2 separate regions of the Homo sapiens genome follow, and region 1 is linked to region 2. Evidence: fine-mapped expression QTL. Tissue or cell type: whole blood. Region 2 holds a variant in brackets; the other region holds the start of a gene. All regions are shown on one strand. Distances are from middle to middle.

The links.
Region 1: BLMH starts here. The variant in region 2 is fine-mapped to the expression of BLMH in whole blood (TOPMed, PIP above 0.99).

What each region holds. Positions count from the first base shown.
Region 1 is chr17:30,288,601-30,296,938 of GRCh38, forward strand. BLMH (bleomycin hydrolase) reads right to left here and starts at 3,344. Exons shown (of 12, transcript NM_000386.4): 1 at 3,207-3,344; 2 at 2,711-2,908; 3 at 773-882. The coding sequence starts at 3,219. LOC124903971 (a long non-coding RNA gene) reads left to right here and starts at 6,090. Exons shown (of 2, transcript XR_007065700.1): 1 at 6,090-6,940. RefSeq lists an enhancer at 2,565-2,624 and silencers at 3,075-3,144, 3,345-3,754.
Region 2 is chr17:30,327,080-30,335,417 of GRCh38, forward strand. TMIGD1 (transmembrane and immunoglobulin domain containing 1) reads right to left here and starts at 6,978. Exons shown (of 7, transcript NM_206832.3): 1 at 6,921-6,978; 2 at 4,973-5,079; 3 at 2,172-2,450. The coding sequence starts at 5,054. The variant T/C (reference allele first, on the strand shown) is at 3,651.

The DNA.
Region 1 (8,338 bases), 38 kb before region 2:
CCTCCCAAAGTGCTGGGATTACAGGCATGAGCCACCAAACCAGGTCAGTAATATACATTTTGAAGATTAGGAAATGGAATATGGCCAGGAGTGGTGGCTCACACCTGTGATCCCAGCACTTTGGGAGGCCAAGGCAGGCAGATCACTTGAGGTCAGGAGTTCGAGACCAGTCTGACCAACACGGTGAAATGCCCTGTCTCTACTAAAAATACAAAAATTAGCTGGGCATGGTGGCATGTGCCTGTGATTCCAGCTACTTGGGAGGCTGAGTTGAGAGGATGGCTTGAACCCAGGAGGCAGAGGTTACAGTGAGCCGAGACTGTGCCACAGCCCTCTAGCCCGGGTGGCAGGGTGAGACTGTCTCAAAAAAATAAATAAACAAATAAACAATCAAATAAAATTATTTACTGTTTTTCAGACAAGTTCTTGAGAGGGAAATTAGGTCCTAGAAAAGAACAAATAACCTAAAAAGATGTTAAAAAGGGAGATATATTGAATTGAATATTGAATATAAAATTTAAAATTTTAAATAGACAAGCAAGCAGTAAGATGAGTCAGTAAACTTATTTCATTGCAAAAAAATGGCCACCTACCAACCAAAAACAGTTCTGCCTTTGAAAGAGTCAACTTTTGATACTCTGGAAGTCAGAATAAAAGGTGTCTCACCTATTATGAAAGGGCAGGCTATAACTGGAAAAGCTACAAAAGAAGAGGCAGTCCCTACCAAGGCTGATATCAATACAAAAAGAATCTTGCCAGATCTGTCCCATACCTTGTCCCAAAAAAACAGGTAAGATTGGCTAAACTCAAATTCTTCAATATTTAACTTTTTCATGAATGGAAGCCTCATAACATTCAGACAAGAAAAGATCCAGCATCGCCCTGAAACAAGAAAGCACATCAAGAAATTATGAGGGTTCACATAGACTGCACTGCTCCAACTGTATTTCCCACCAATGAACTCATGACACGATCTGGACAATTCAGAAAGAGTAAATCAGAAAGAGCAGAAAGATTAAAAACAAAACAAGAAAGGTGGTAATTATTATTAGCAATATATATGCAAAGGTTTAATATCTTTAACACAAAAACACTCTTTACGTATCAAATAAAGAATCCATTTTTCAGAGTAATGCCTTCTCCAAATTGTACTCTACTTCAAAATAAATTAACTGAGAGCGCCATTAGAAAAGTCTTTTAAGGTCTTAAATACAGGGAAATTATCTCTTTTCTGAGGGAAAATTCTGAGGGAAAAACTTTGACTTGTATTGGGTATAACCTTTTTACTAATATGAAAATATGTTTATAATATATTGGTAAGTGAAAAAGATAGGTAGCTTACATAACAATGTATAAGGTATCAATGCATATTAAACACTATTAAACACACACACACACACAAAACTTGACAAATATACAAGAAAAATATTTACTTGGTATTTACAAATATTCTACATTAAACAAAAATAATTTTGTAACAAGAAGAAAACTCTAGTTAACTATAGTGTTTTATGAAAGTCACTAGTGCCTATTAGTTCGTCTTTACCTTACATTTACCTGTATGTCACCTCTCTTCTATATGCTATATATTTCTAGTAGAGGGGATCTGGATGCACTGGTGATGTGAAAACTGCATGAAAATAAACTACACAACTCACATGCTATTTGGATCTTTTGTATGTAAAAGTGACACTGCAAAATGTGTAAGACCTGACCTGTTCCCTAACGGGTCACTGCAATCTAAACTATGTAGGACCACTGTGACATTACTAACTGGATCATCTGTAGCCTGAGAGCCCACACCACTCCAAGCACTTTCTTCTAAAGCAAAACATTAATTATTGTAAGGTCTTGACTTTTTCCTTAACATTTAAAAAATCAACTTTATTCAGGTATAATGTACATACAATAAAATGTACTCACGTTAAATGTGTGCTTTGTGAGTTCTAACCGACTCTAAACAAGCACTGATGTGCTTCCTGTCCGTATAGATAGACTGGGGGGTCGTTTTTAAGTATAGAAAGACTTTAAAAAATCCGTTTAGTACAATTTTGTTGTGAGAATGTGCTCCTTATTTAGATTGCTGGATATCCAATCTTTCACTATACCTGTTTTTTCTGAGAGTGGTGCTAGAAAGCAGATAGCAAAACGAGACTTCTTGACCAGCAAGGCATGAGAACAGAACTTTTTTCTGTATTACAAACTGATCTACTGGTGGGAACTGAGCCCATCAGCACATTAGCTTCAGTTGTAACCAAGAAGCATATTTAAAAGTAACATCTGATGACATTTTAATGTAATTACATTGTATCTTTTCTATTTCATAGTATAGGGCCTTCAGGGCATTTCTGGGGAGTCCTCCAAAGATATGAACATTTTCACATGTTCTGTTTTGTGACCAAGACCATACATCTCCAAGACACGGGCTACAAACCACACAGCATTGGAACATAATATAGTCAATTACACTCAAACGTATACTCATGGACATGTCACTTTTGTACTCTAACCGCATGTACTAACAAGCCACAGAACAGCAAAACAAACCACATGGGTAATGTTCTTAGACCTGCCTGTACCTGTGCCTCATTCTTTACGAATTTACGACCAGTTCTTTCAGTACGAATTTAAGACCACTCTTAAATAAGACACCAAAATGGGACGCTGTCAGGAAGGTCAAGGAACGTATGGGAGAAGTGGAAGCCCACACCTGAGCTCTTCTGGTTGGTGATTGGCTTGCCCTCCTGGGGCACGGCGTGCTGGAACACATGCTGCGCGCGCTGCACCGTGGCCCGCTTCAGACAGATGTCCAGCAGGTCGTGGGTGGTCCCGACATTCTGGGCAAGTACGAACTGGGGGTCGGAATTCAGTTTCTGTATCAGAGCAGCTACCTTCTCCGAATTCAGTCCTGTTGGGAGACCAAACAGGATTTTAACGCAAAAAGAGGGGGAAAGGGCTGATCTGGGGCTCCCGCGTCCCGAATCTAACTTCGTAAGCGCATCCTGGGGTGCCCGCTGCAGCGGGGAAACCCATAAGCGGCATCCTCCTCCAAGGAGCTGTCTCCCTCCAGGCCGATCCAGCCTGCCCCGAAAGCTCCCTCCCCGCCATCGCCAAGGGTCCCAGCCCCCGGCCTTCCCCGCCGCCGGGCCTCACGGGGACCGCGGAGCTCCTCCAGAGGACCGCGGCGGGGGACGGCGGCACCTCACCCGAGCTGCTCATGGCGCCCACGCTGCCCGGCGGGGTAACGGTAGCTTCCAGGGTCCTTGGGCGAGCGCCGGGATTGCGCTGCGGCTCGCTGCCTAGGGGGCCCGACCTGTCTCTCGCACCCGGAGCGCCGGAAAAAGGAAACCGGCTCGGCGGCGGCGGCGGCGGCGGCGGCGGGGAGGCTGAGGCTGGGAGAAACGGGGTCCGCGGAGGGACAAAACTCCCCCCTCGCGTTGCTGAGTCAGCGCCGTCGGGGCTGGCCCCGCCCGGGGGAGGGCCGACGGGGGCGGCCTAGCTGACGCGCTGGGTCCGCCAGCGCCCGGGGGCTGAGGCCGCGCCTGCCCCCGCGCAGGACCGCACAGATGGTCTGCGCGCCAGGGCGGCGCCGGCGCCTTCTCCCCCTAGGTTCCCGCCTCCGGGCCGCGCGGGCGCCCTCCCGGGATCAGGCCCGCTCCAAGGAGGGAGGCTGACGGGTTCCCTGTGGGCCCAGACCCCCAGTACTCTAGCATCGGGGAATCGTCCCCAGGAAGCCTTGTGAGAAGCCAAAAGGGAGCTCGAGGCGGGAGGGAGGAGCTGAGAGGTCCCATAATTAAGCGTCGGGCTTAGGACGGGTCGATATGTCACAAGGAATGCACCCGAAGGCTCTTCCTATAGGCTTCGTTTGCTGACCAATCACTGCATTCTCAATGGCAACTTGTTGCTTGGATTCTCATCAGAAGCAAATAATTGTCTTTGAGGGGGAATGGGAACCAAGCTCTTCCCCACCCACTCCAAAGCTACTACCAGAGTTCTACAAATAGACATCTGCTCATTTCAAGAACACTACCCATCTGGTCTTCACGGAGTCCACGAGTGGCTCCTGTATAGTCCAGCATGTCCCGTTGGGTTTAACTCAGGAGGATGACAGAGGCTAGCCGTATGCATCAATATTGTTTCGCCGAGTTCTCTACAAAACTAACTGATGCTCCCCCTCTAGGCTTTCAAGATAACTCAACAGTTTCCCAAAGTTTTGAGATTGTAAAAACCTTGTTTTTGTTGATTCCGTGTTTCATGCCCTGAAATCTCAGCCCTTAGTAAGATGCTGGGATAGAACCCACAGAGAGTAAAACAAAAACACTGAAACCCTGTATCTGCTATTCAAAACGATGAGGTTGAGTGTGTGTGTGTGTAACCTAGAATCTAGGTCTTCTTAGATTGAAAATCATCGCAGTTCTAAGGAACTCTGATATCTGGAAAAATCCATACTCAGGCACCAATCAGTCATTTGAGAAAGCACGGTTTCTATGTCCCTAGAGAGACTCGGCTAAAAATTGGGGCTATAACATAGCAACTATCTTAAGTGGGCCCATCAACCATCCTATTCTGAGGTTCTTTCAATATCTGAAAAAGAAGAGGCTGAAAATTATACAGAAAGAAATCACTGGTCCTTTCACAAAATGATGTTCAAGCATCCTGCCCAATTCAAGTCATAAATTTTTATTCAGTATCTAACATGTACTAGGCACTGGACAAACTGCTGATGACATAGAGACGAACAAAGCTTAATCTTGCCGTTAAGAAACTCAATGTAGTAGGAAAGAGATGCAAAACAACTTTTAGACTATCTGTAGTAGCATACCAATAGTGCTGTAGACTGTAGAAGCAATGAGGAGAGCACTGTCAATTAGGGCCAAAGGGTGCCTGAAAATAGAAGTGACAAGAGAGCATGATCTTGAAGAGTGGATGAGATTTTTACAAGTCAAAGAACAGGAGAAGGGCATTCAAGGCACCAGCGAAGGCGCAGTGAATAAAATCATGTTCAAGAAAGGGTGCATCATAATCGGATGTGGCTAAGAGCAAGGCATGTTTTGGGAGCAGAGGCAAGGTGTAGGACTGGAAAAGTTTTGTAGGTTTGGGCCAAGATATAAAGGGTTTTATGTTCAATGCCTGAGCATCTGGACTTTATCTTATGGTTAATTAGAAGACAAAATGGGTTTTGAAACAAAGGAAAAATATGCTCAAGTCTGTGTAAAAAAAGAAACCTGGTGGCAGTGGGGAGAGTAATTTGGAGGGGAGGGGCTCTGGAGATAGGGAAACTGGTTAGAAGGTTCTTCCAGTAGTGAACTTGGGAGAGGACAAAAGCCTTACATTGCGGAAAGGGAAGAGGCATTGATAATCTTGAAGTTTTCAGCGGAATAAGAAGATGGAAGGTGGTGTCATTAACCAAGAGAGGGCATACAGAAAAATAGGCATATTTGCATATTTGCAAGTGTGCAGATCTGAACTGAGTTTGGGCCATAGCAAAATTAGGATGCCCCACAGGACACCCAGGAAGAGAAGTTCAGGACGTAGATGAAAAGATGTCTAGAGATTAGATGAGACACATAGGTTCGAGGTGGAACAATGAAAGTCAGCAGGGTTACAGAGGGAAAGAGGATAGAGCAATAAAGAGATGAAGACCACAGATAGTGCCCTGGGCTGCAATGTGCAGTTGCACAGGGTGTTCATGGCACAAGGGCACCAGGCTGAGTGTGGTGAGTAGGGACTAAAATGCAGTCCAGGCTCTGCTTGCCAAGCCATGCACCCTGGCCCAGGCTGTGCACAGAGTATGATGTACCTTTCACTACTTTTTTTTTTTTTTTGAGATGAGTCTCACTCTGTCACCCAGGCTGGGGTGCAGTGGCATAATCTCGGCTCACTGCAACCTCCACCTCCTGGGTTCAAGCAATTTGCCTGCCTCAGCATCCTGAGTAGCTGGGATTACAGGCACGCACCACCATACCCGGCTAATTTTTGTATTTTTAGGAGAGACGGGGTTTCACCATGTTGGCCAGGCCGGTCTTGAACCCCTGACCTCGTGATCTGCCCACCTCGGCCTCCCAAAGTGCTGGAATTAAAGGCATGAGCCACCACGCCTGGCCCCTTTCACAACTTCTTATAAGGATGCCATATGGGAGTAGTATTAGCTCTGAAAATGATAATGTTTAAAGTATGGGTGAAGACAGAGGAGCCAGCAGAAATAGAAAGATCAGTCAGCGAAGTAGGAGACCCGGGGAGTTATGTCCTGGAATCCCAGGAAGGCAAGGAGAGGACAGTGAATTGAATTAAAAGCTGCAGAAAGTCAAGTAAGATTGGTTTTGGCAACTGGGTTACAGGCAACCTTAGAGAGGGCAGTTTTAGTGGAAGGGAAGGGTGGGCAGAAGCCACATCGTAATGAGTTGAGAGGGAGGTAAATATTAGGGAAGCTCTTTGGGGAGAAAGGGTAAATTTGTGTCTACTGGAGGATGAGAGGAAGGAACCAGTACAGATGAGAGATTAAATATGTGTCAGAGAGGATACAATTGCAAGAGTAAGAGCTCAGGAGGAGATGGAATCACTGGGGAAGGTGGAGGGGACCAGTTTTACAGCTATTGCCACCCTTTCCATACTGGCGATTACATTTCTCCACCCCATGCCCAGAGATTTCTATCATCATCTCTTTGCTGGCCTCCTGCTCTGTCCTCATCATCAGGGTGGCACCCTTATTACCAGATTTCCACCCAGCAATTCACACCCATGCACTCAGCCCCCATATGGGCATGGTGAGGAGGTACAGAATAAAACCGGTTTCCCAGTGGGTTACCCCCAAATGACCTACCCAGGAAGACATTTCTCCAAGAAGAAAATTCTGTGTTCTATCCTTCTTATTCCAGCCAGAAGAGATGTTGTACAGCCCGGTGACACCTCGTGGGACAAAGCAACCAGAAACAGAATTCTAGTATGAAGTCTCTAATATTAAAAAAGAAAATATTGCCTGTAATCCCAGCACTTTGGGAAGCTGAGGTGGGAGGATTCCTGCCTTGAGTTCAAGGCCAGGAGTTGAAGACCAGCCTGGGCAACATAGTGAAACTCCACCACTACAAAAAAAAAAAAAAAAAAAGAAAGAAAAAGTTTTATAAAAAATTAGCTGAATGTGGTGGCAGACACTTTTAGACCTAGCTACTCAGGAGACTGAGACGGGAGGATCACTTGAGCCCAGGAGTTTGAGGCTGCGGTGAGCTATGATCACACTGCTGTACTCAGCTCTCTCTAAAAAGAAAGAAAAGAAAATCTTTATAAATCCTGTGAGGCAGCACCATTTGCCACTGCAGATATGCCTTCTGCCTGTTGCTTCCATGCCACTCTACCAAGTTAAAGCAAACAAGGCCAGTCTCAAGGCAAATTTTCCACCCTGTGTCTCCTCCTTTGCTGTCCACCAATCTTTGACATGTGTTTGTCAACTACTTCTTTTTTTTTTTTTTTTGAGATGAAGTCTCGTTCTTGTCCCCCGGGCTGGAGTGCAATGGCGTGATCTCGGCTCACTGCAATCTCTGCATCCCAGGTTCAAGCAATTCTCCTGCCTCAGCCTCCCAAGTAGCTGGGATTACAGGCACCTGGCCACCATACCCAGCTAACTTGTGTATTTTTAGTAGAGACGGGGTTTCACCATGTTGACCAGGCTGGTTTCGAACTCCTGACCTCAGGTGATCCGCCTGGCTCGGCCTCCCAAAGTGCTGGGATTACAGGCATGAGCCACTGTGCCCGGCCGCAACTACTTCTATTTCAATAGAAAAGACCAGGTTTTTATGTTGAATGGAAGTCTAGGCTAGAATCTAACACAAACATTCTCCAATTCTATGAAACTCATTCATACTTAAGTGTTGTCCCACTAACTCCAAGATTTGCCTTGGTCAGGAAGCCTCCTTATATTTCACTAGATGTGATAGTCAGCTTCAGAGTTCACACATTGGTAGTCTACTGGAGCAAATTCAGCTTTGAGACGTTTTGTTTGGCCTGCATGGTAATTTAAAATTTTTGAGCTGGCCGGGCAGTGGCTCATGCCTGGAATCCCAGCACTTTGGAAGGCTGAGGCAGGCAGAATGCTCAGGAGTTGGAGATCAGCCTGAGCAACATGGCAAAACCCTATGTCTATAAAAAATACAAAAATTAGCCAGTGTGATAGTGTGCACCTTAGTCCCAGCTACTTGGGAGTCTGAGATGGGAGGGTTGCTTGAGTTTGGGCGGTTGAGGCTGCAGTGAGTCATGATCATGCCACTGCCCTCCAGCCTGGGTGACAGAGCAAGACGCTGTCTCAAAAGAATTTTTTTTTTTGAGACAATATTTATAACTGGGAAGT
Region 2 (8,338 bases):
TTAGCAACAATGATATTTAGGAGATTGTTATAAACAGAATTTAAACAGTGGATTGAGGCTAGAAAACTGAAAACAATTTCTTTAAGTCATCAAATCACATTGTTGGCATTTCTGCCATGTCTCCCTTAAGAGGGTTCCATCAGCCTGGGCAACATAGCAAAACCCCGTCTCTACAAAAAATACAAAAATCAGCTCGGCCTGGTGGTGCACGCCTGTAGTCCCAGCTACTTGGAAGGCTGAGGCAGGCAGATCACTTGAGCCTGGGAGGCAGAGGTTATAGTGAGCTGAGATTGTGCCACTGCACTCCAGTGTAGGTGACAGAGTGAGACCCTGTCTCAAAAAAAAAAAAAGTTTCGTGGAATAAGCACTTAAGCACTAGGTTAGAAGCTTGGGAATTAGTGTTTTATTCTCAGCTGCACCTATGATTTGAGCCCCTAGTCCGGGCCTTAGTTTCCTTAGCTGGCTTTTTATTTTATTTTATTTTATTTTATTTTTTTTGAGACAGGGTCTCACTCTGTTGCCCAGGTTGAAATGCAGTGGCGCAATCACAGCTCGCTGAAGCCTCAAACTTCTGGGCTCAGAAGATCCTGTAGCCTCAGCCTCCCGAGCAGCTGGGGCTACAGATGTGTGCCACCATGCCCAGCTAATTAAAAACACACCTTATTTTTTTTTTTGGTAGAAATAGGGTCTCACTATGTTATGTTTGTAGAGATAGGGTCTTTCTACCAAATCATACTGCATCATTATACCTCACCCATTGCCATACCATCCACACCATTCTCATGCAGAACCAGCTTTTCACCCAACAACCCATGTGATCATCTACATTGTATCACTTGACAGTCCCCTAAGCCTATACAGTTCTACCAATGGGTTACCAATACCTGGAACCCAATCATTGAAAAGCTTCACCTTTTTTGATTTTAAGGTGATGTTTAAAGATTCCCTAATGAAAATCTTTTTTTTTTTTTTTTGAGATGGGTCTCACACTGTTGCCCAGGCTGGAGTGCAGTGGTGGCATCTCAGCTCATTGCAACCTCTGCTTCTTGAGTTCAAGCAATTCTCCTGCCTCAGCCTCCTGAGTAGCTGAGATTACAGGTGCCTACCACCGCACCTGGCCAATTTTTGTATTTTTAGTAGAGGCCAGGTTTCACCATTGTTGGTCAGGCTGGTCTCGAACTCCTGATCTTAAGTGATCCATTTGCCTCTGCCTCCCAAAGTGTTGGGATTACACACATGAGCCACTGTGCCAGGCCATGAAAATCTGTCTAAGCAGAACACAAAAGCTAGGAACTACAAAGGAAAAGACTTGAAGCTTTAAATATATAAACATTTAAAATTTCAATATGGCAAAAAAGAACAATAAAAATTTTCAAAAACAAATAGGAGAAATACTTACAATTCAAAATGACAAAGGACTAATTTCCTTAATCTACAAAGCCCTTGTACAGATTAATGAGAAAAAAGCATAAAACCCAACGGAAAAAAATGAGTTAAGGATACAAGCAGGCATTTCATGGAAACAAACAAAAAAAAGACCATTATGTTTACACAAAGGTGAACACCCTCATTCTTAATTTAAAAAATGAAAACAGGCTGGGTGCAGTGGCTCACACCTGTAATCCCAGCAGTTTGAGAGGCTGAGGTAGGCGGTTCACTCGAGGTTAGGAGCTTGAGACCAGCCTGGCCAACATGGTGAACCCCCCGTCTCTACTAAAAATACAAAAATTAAAAATTAGCTGGGCATGGTAGTGGGCACCTGCAGTCCCAGCTACCCAGGAGGCTGAGGCAGGAGAATCGCTTGAACCCGGGAGGTGGAGGTTGCAGTGAGCCGAGATTGCGCCACTGAACTGCACTCCAGCCTGGGCAACAGAGCGAGACTCTGTCTCAAAAAAAAAAAAAAGAAAGAAAGAAAAAAGAAAAAGAAAAAAGAAAAGAAAAGAGAAAAGAAAAAAAAGAAAAGGAAAAGAAAATTTCAAAGGAGGCTGGCAAATTCTCAGAGTTTGGCGATACTCAGTGCTCATGAGGGTGAGGGGAAATAGGTACTCTCATACTTTGTGGTAGGAGCATAAATTGGGCAATTTGGCAATACCAAGACCTAGATTTCAACTACCACTTCATGTGTTACAGACATTACAGACCCACTAGCTGTTTCTTTTCCCCTCACTCACAAGTAACATTCAGCACCACCGAAACGGACACGGACTGATCCCTCCCCAGCCTGCAGGTAAAGCTGATTCCGTTGTCATTTTCACTGATGGAAGAGACACAGACAGAGCTGGAATTGATTTTGTTTCCAGATTTCAAATCCACTCTCCCCTCCTCTCGGTACCAGAGCAGTTCTTCCTCTCTGGTGTGGTTTTGAACAGCACATATCAGAGATGCTTGGGAGCCAGGTGTAGTATCCAGGATATAGTTCTCAGTTTTACCATTCACAGTTAAAACAGAACCTGGGAGTATAGGGAGAAACTATTTAGATATACAGAGTAAACAACCTTAATGCTCATGAACAGGGGATTGGTTAAATAAGTTATGTTACATCAGTAGAACAAAATAAACTCTCAACGATTAAAAATAGTCATATTGATCTATATGATTTTATAATGAAAAATATTCATAATGTATTGTTAACTGAAAAAGAAAAAGATTAAAATGTGGTCATCAAATTTTTGTGCACATTGGAATCACCAGGGGATCTTTTAAAAAGTACTGATGTAGCTGGGTGCTGTGCCTATAATCCCAGGGCTTTGGGAGGTAGAGGCGGGAGGATCGCTTGAGCTCAGGAGTTCAAGATCAGCCTGGGTAACATAGTGAGACTCCGTCTCTACAAAAAATAAAAAAATAAAAAAAAAAACATTAGCCAGGCATGGTGGTGTGCACCCATACTTTTAGCTACTTGGGAGGATAAGGTGGGAGACTCGCTTGAGCCCAGGAGGTGGAGGTTGCAGTGAGCCAAGATCGCACCATTGAACTCCAGTCTGGGTGATAGAGCAAGACCTTGCCCCCAAAAAAAAGTACTGATGCCTGATTCTCATCCCCAGACATCTGATTAGTTGACATGAGTGCAATCTGGGCATTGTGTTGTTTAAAGGCACCCCACCCCCCGACCCCCGGTGATTTGAGAAGCATCAGGTTAGAAATCAATACATACAGAATGATCATACACATATGTGTGTATGTGTGTATACATGGAAGTATTTTTTCATGGAAAAAAGACAGGAAAAAACCCATATATATTGAATACACACACACGCATGCATATATGTATATACATATACACATACCATATTTAATTTGTTTACTTGAAGGGATTGAAAGTGGGAAAGCAAGGGAATGAAATGGAAAAATATTTAAGGTATAAACTTTAGGCAAAAAGGCAGAATATAAATTAAAGCTCTAATAATTACTACAAATGTATCAAAATTGCACATGCAGATGAGTAAGAACTGATTTGAAAACATTTTCTGCTTAAATGATAGGATTATGGACAAATTGGGTCTTGCATCTATAATGTTTTAATATTGTTTTGGCAGTGAAGAAAAATAAAAAGATGTTTAAGTAGTTGAGGTTTGTGTGGTAGACCAGTCTTTGTGGGTTGGGTGATCAGGATACATACCAGGTTTTTTTTGTTTTGTTTTGTTTTTCAGCTC[T/C]GACTTTTAGAAACCTATTCATTGCATAGTAATACACCTGAATTTCGGTTTTTATTTTTCTGATTCAGAAGCAAGTAACAAAAGCTAAAAAAGAACTTTATCTGTCATAAACCTGTACCCCAGATAACATTTGTTAATATGTTCTGTAAACACATTAACCTTCCTTTTAAAACACTTAAGCTGGCCGGGCATGGTGGCTCATGCCTGTAATCCCACACTTTGGGAGGCTGAGGCGGACGGATCACCTGAGGTCAAAAGTTTGAGACCAGCCTGGCCAACATAGTGAAACCCTGTCTCTACTAAAAATACAAAAAAATTAGCCAGGCATGGTGGCGGGCTCCTGTAATCCCAGCTACTCGGGAGGCTGAGGCAGGAGAATCACTTGAACCTGGGAGATGAAGGTTGCAGTGAGCCAAGATCACACCACTGCACTCCAGCCTGGGCAACAAAGTGAGACTTCTTCTCAAAAAAGCAAAAAACTTAAGCTACTTGTAAAGATAATGGTATTGTTGTCTAGTATTTTATTAAAATATGGAATATTGAGTGGTTGTCATCTCTGGATGAAAGTATTTGGGGGGATTTGTACTTTTCTTTTTTTTTTTATAGATTGCCTGATTTATTTTACAATGACTATGCATTACTTTTAAAATCAGAAAAGAGTGGTAGGAGAGCAAATGCTGGAAAGATTTTCATGTGAAATGGTATGTTCAGATAAACAGATGATTATTTGGGGTAACATTAGTAATAAAATGCATTAAAATGTAGGAGGATTCTGGTGGTGGCTCTGGAGAGAATAGAATACTTCACCTTGTCTTGTAATAATAAAACCCTAAAAACAATATTTTTCCATTTGATTTTTTTTTTTTTTTTTTTGAGACGGAGTCTCGCCCTGTCGCCCAGGCTGGAGTACAGTGACGTAATCTCGGCTCACTCACTGCAAGCTCCACCTCCTGGGTTCACGCCATTCTCCTGCCTCAGCCACCCGAGTAGCTGGAACTACAGGCGCCTGCCAGCACACCAGGCTAATTTTTTGTATTTTTAGTAGAGATGGGGTTTCACCGTGTTAGCCAGGATGGTCTCGATCTCCTGACCTCATGATTCACCTGCCTCGGCCTCCCAAAGTGTTGGGATTACAGGCGTGAGCCACCCGCCTGGCCTCCATTTGATTTTTTATTGTTAGTTGACTCCTGTACTGTGAGCCATGCTAACTGTGTAGTCATTCCAATTTGGAATTTAAGGATATATCCAATGCCCATTGATCACTTTTCTTAATCGGAAATTTTTCTTTATCTAAAAAGAGGCCAAAAAGAACTTTAACTTACTTGTCATCTCACGTGGCAGAAATAAAATTACTAAGAGAAGAAATCTTCCCATTTGCATTATGACACTGCTCTTCCATGCCATCTTTAATGAGTTAAACTCAGATCTACTAAGGGAAAAATAGTGCAGTTGGTTTTGTACTTTGGTCTGCAATGAGTTCGTGAACCTTCCTTCTGTCTATTATGCATTTAAAGTGAAGTCCCAGATGAATCATCCCAGCTATAACGGTACTACTTCTAGCTTTTAATTAAACAACCCTGTCTGACTAAGTTCAAAGTACATTTAGTAGTAAGAAATTTTTTTTAAAAGCAACATAAAACCACAGGAAATAGGCTATGACAGATAGAGCAGCGTCAGGGTGCCCTGGGGAAGATGAAACCAGTCTTCCCTAGAGAAACTGATAGAATTTCATTTTAGCAGAATGAAACTTGTCTCATTCTCAGACAGTCCCTACTGAACAAAGTAATTCTTGTTCTGAAAGTTTTTCTTGGGTCATTTTTGTAAAGATGTTCTCTGATAATAGAGAGTTTTTGAGACTACTCCAAATCCCATAGATTCAAATGGTGTGTACGTAGAAAAGCCTCAATTGAAACATGGCCTCTAGTTTAAACCATGTTAATCTTGTCTTTCTCCCACTATTCTCTCTCTCTCTTCCCCTTGACCCAATGGACTAAAAATAATAAATAATAAAGGTGTCCTTTCTCCCTTCTTGCTTTTGCTTCAACTCTCCCTCTCCCTAAGATATTCTCCATTTCCATCTGGGAAAAAAACATATATTCATTACTTCCTTTCAAGAGTACTACTATAAATATAGCGAACCACATACGGAAAACTTTCTGCGCAACAGGGACTGTGCTAAACACTTTACATACATCATTTCAGTCACAATTAAGCCTCCTAACAACCCTCCTGAGGTCGTTTCTATAGATTTAAAGAGACTATGTAATTTGCCTGAGATCCCACAGACAGTAAATGTCAAGGTCGGGATTTGAACCCAGACTCCCAAGACCATGCTCTTAACCACCCTACTCTCAACCACCCTACTACCCAATCTACTGCCTAGATTAATATTCTTTTCCTTTAAGAAGCTGCTGTTAGGCTGGGTGCAGTGGCTCATGCCTGTAATCCCAGCACTTTAGGAGCTGAGGCAGGTGGATTACCTGAGGTCAGGAGTTTGAGACTAGCCTGACCAACATAGTGAAACCCCATCTCTACTAAAAATGCAAAAAAAAAAAAAAAAAATTAGCCAGGCATGGTGGCGAGCGCCTGTAATCCCAGCTACTCGGGAGGCTGAGGCAGGAGAATTGCTTGAACCTGGGAGGTGGAGGTTGCAGTGAGCCAAGATTATGCCACTGCACTCCAGCCTGGGCGACAGAGTGAGGCTCGGTCTCAAAAAATAAAAATAAAAAATAAAAAAATAAAAAAAAGCTGCTGTTAATCTTTTCCAGTCCCTGGCCACTGGGAGTTCTCTCCCCTTAACACCAGTATTAATTTACAAGAGCTGAAATATACCTATACCTACTCTACTCCTCCCCTGTCCCAGGCGTGCCCTGACAGGAGTAAGTTTCATTCATGCCAGGCTCACCCTTTCTGGCAGACAAGCCTGCATCAATCTTTTCGTAAGATGCAATTACTACTAATATTGATTCTTTTGTAATTTTAAATATTTGCCAAAAAGATTTCTATCACAGTGTTGTAACAGTGATTACTGCAGAATGTGGTCAATAGTAGAGTTTTCTCAAGCGCTCTGCACTACAAGTACTCAATAAAAACTGAGAGTGCAGGCTTCTTGCCAGACCTCACCCAGCCCTATTAAGGGGACAAATCTATGTCTTCTCTTTCCCTCCACTCCACCGAGACAGCAACTTTTCAAAATGTATTCCCCTCACTTGGCTTGTTTTTAATCTGTATGACTCTCTACTTTCTATATAAGACAGTCTTACCACTTACCTCTTGAGCTCTGAGAAGCTGACTTCCTTGGCCAACTGTTCCTCTGCCTGAAAACCCTAAATGCTTTCCCTGTTACAATCCTTTATAATACTTGAATTTGAACGCTTTATGACAGCAGGGTCAAATAAATAAGATAACTTGGGTTCAAAGTCTGTTTTTCTTTATGGAGTCTTAGAGAAGATAGTAATTGGGAAAGACATCTTCTTAAGATCTAAGTTTCTATGTCTACCTCGGTTACTAGGTGGGGCCGGATATTACTAACAGGGATGTGTTGTTCCAAGAAAGCTTGAACTTGTGCAAAAATCTGTAGCGCATCTCACTGAATATTGTCATATTTAAGTAAGATGGCTGCGTTTTGATCATCTAGCCTGGGGATTGTGAAGGGACGAGTCCAAAGAGAAGTTTGACTTTAACAGAGGTCAAAACATTGGAAGATTCTACACAACTTAAATAATGCTGGAAAAGTCTTAGTTACCACTAGTAACCCAAGCCCAGTGCATAAGCTGTACCAAGCCAGGCATGGCAGGGAGCCGTTTTTTTGTTGTTGTTGTTTGTTTTGTTTTTTGAGGCAGGGTTTCACTCTGTCACCCAGATTGGAATGCAATGGCACAATTGTGGCTGACTGAACCTCTGCTCCCAGCCTCCCAAGGAGCTAGGACTACTGGCGTGAGTCACCATGCCCAGCTAAACTTTGTTAATATATATATTTTTGGTAGAGATGAAATTTCGCCATGTTTCCTAGGCTGGTCTCTAACTCCCGGCCTTAAGCAATCTGCCCACCTTGGCCTAGGGAACAGTTTTATCCTCTTGAGGCTCTCACCTGATTGGGAGATCCTTGCATTACACTATGTTTATGGTATTGTTAACGATGCAAATTTTATCTGCCAAGTACTATTGTTCCCATTTACACAAAAATATAACAGAAGAATATTTATAGTTATCTACACATTTTAACACACTGCTGAAGCACACCAGCAATCTGCCTCTTACTAGCTATGTAACTTTGAAAAGTTATTTAACCTCCATGAGCCTCAGGATCTTCATCAATACAATGGAAATAGTAATAGTACCCTCCCTACGGAGTCACTGTGAGGATTAAATGAAATGAAGCATGTGAATCTGCCGCACAGTAAGCTCTTGGTAAACAGTAGCTCTTATTACTATTATTATTAATATAGGCTGAGCAGGGCATCCTAAATCAACACAACCTCACTATAGCATTGTTCAAGCAAAAATCAGAGCTAAGAGCAGCTCCTGTTGGCTGGGTTGCAAGCACCACCCAAACAGGTTTTGAGTTTGCCTCTCCAGGGATCCAAGATTGTCATTTTAAAATGAATTTAGCAATGGAGTGATGTTTTGGTTCTTGGTGCCTCCAAAATAGACCCTGAGACAGAGCTTTGAGTGCCAATAGTTTATTT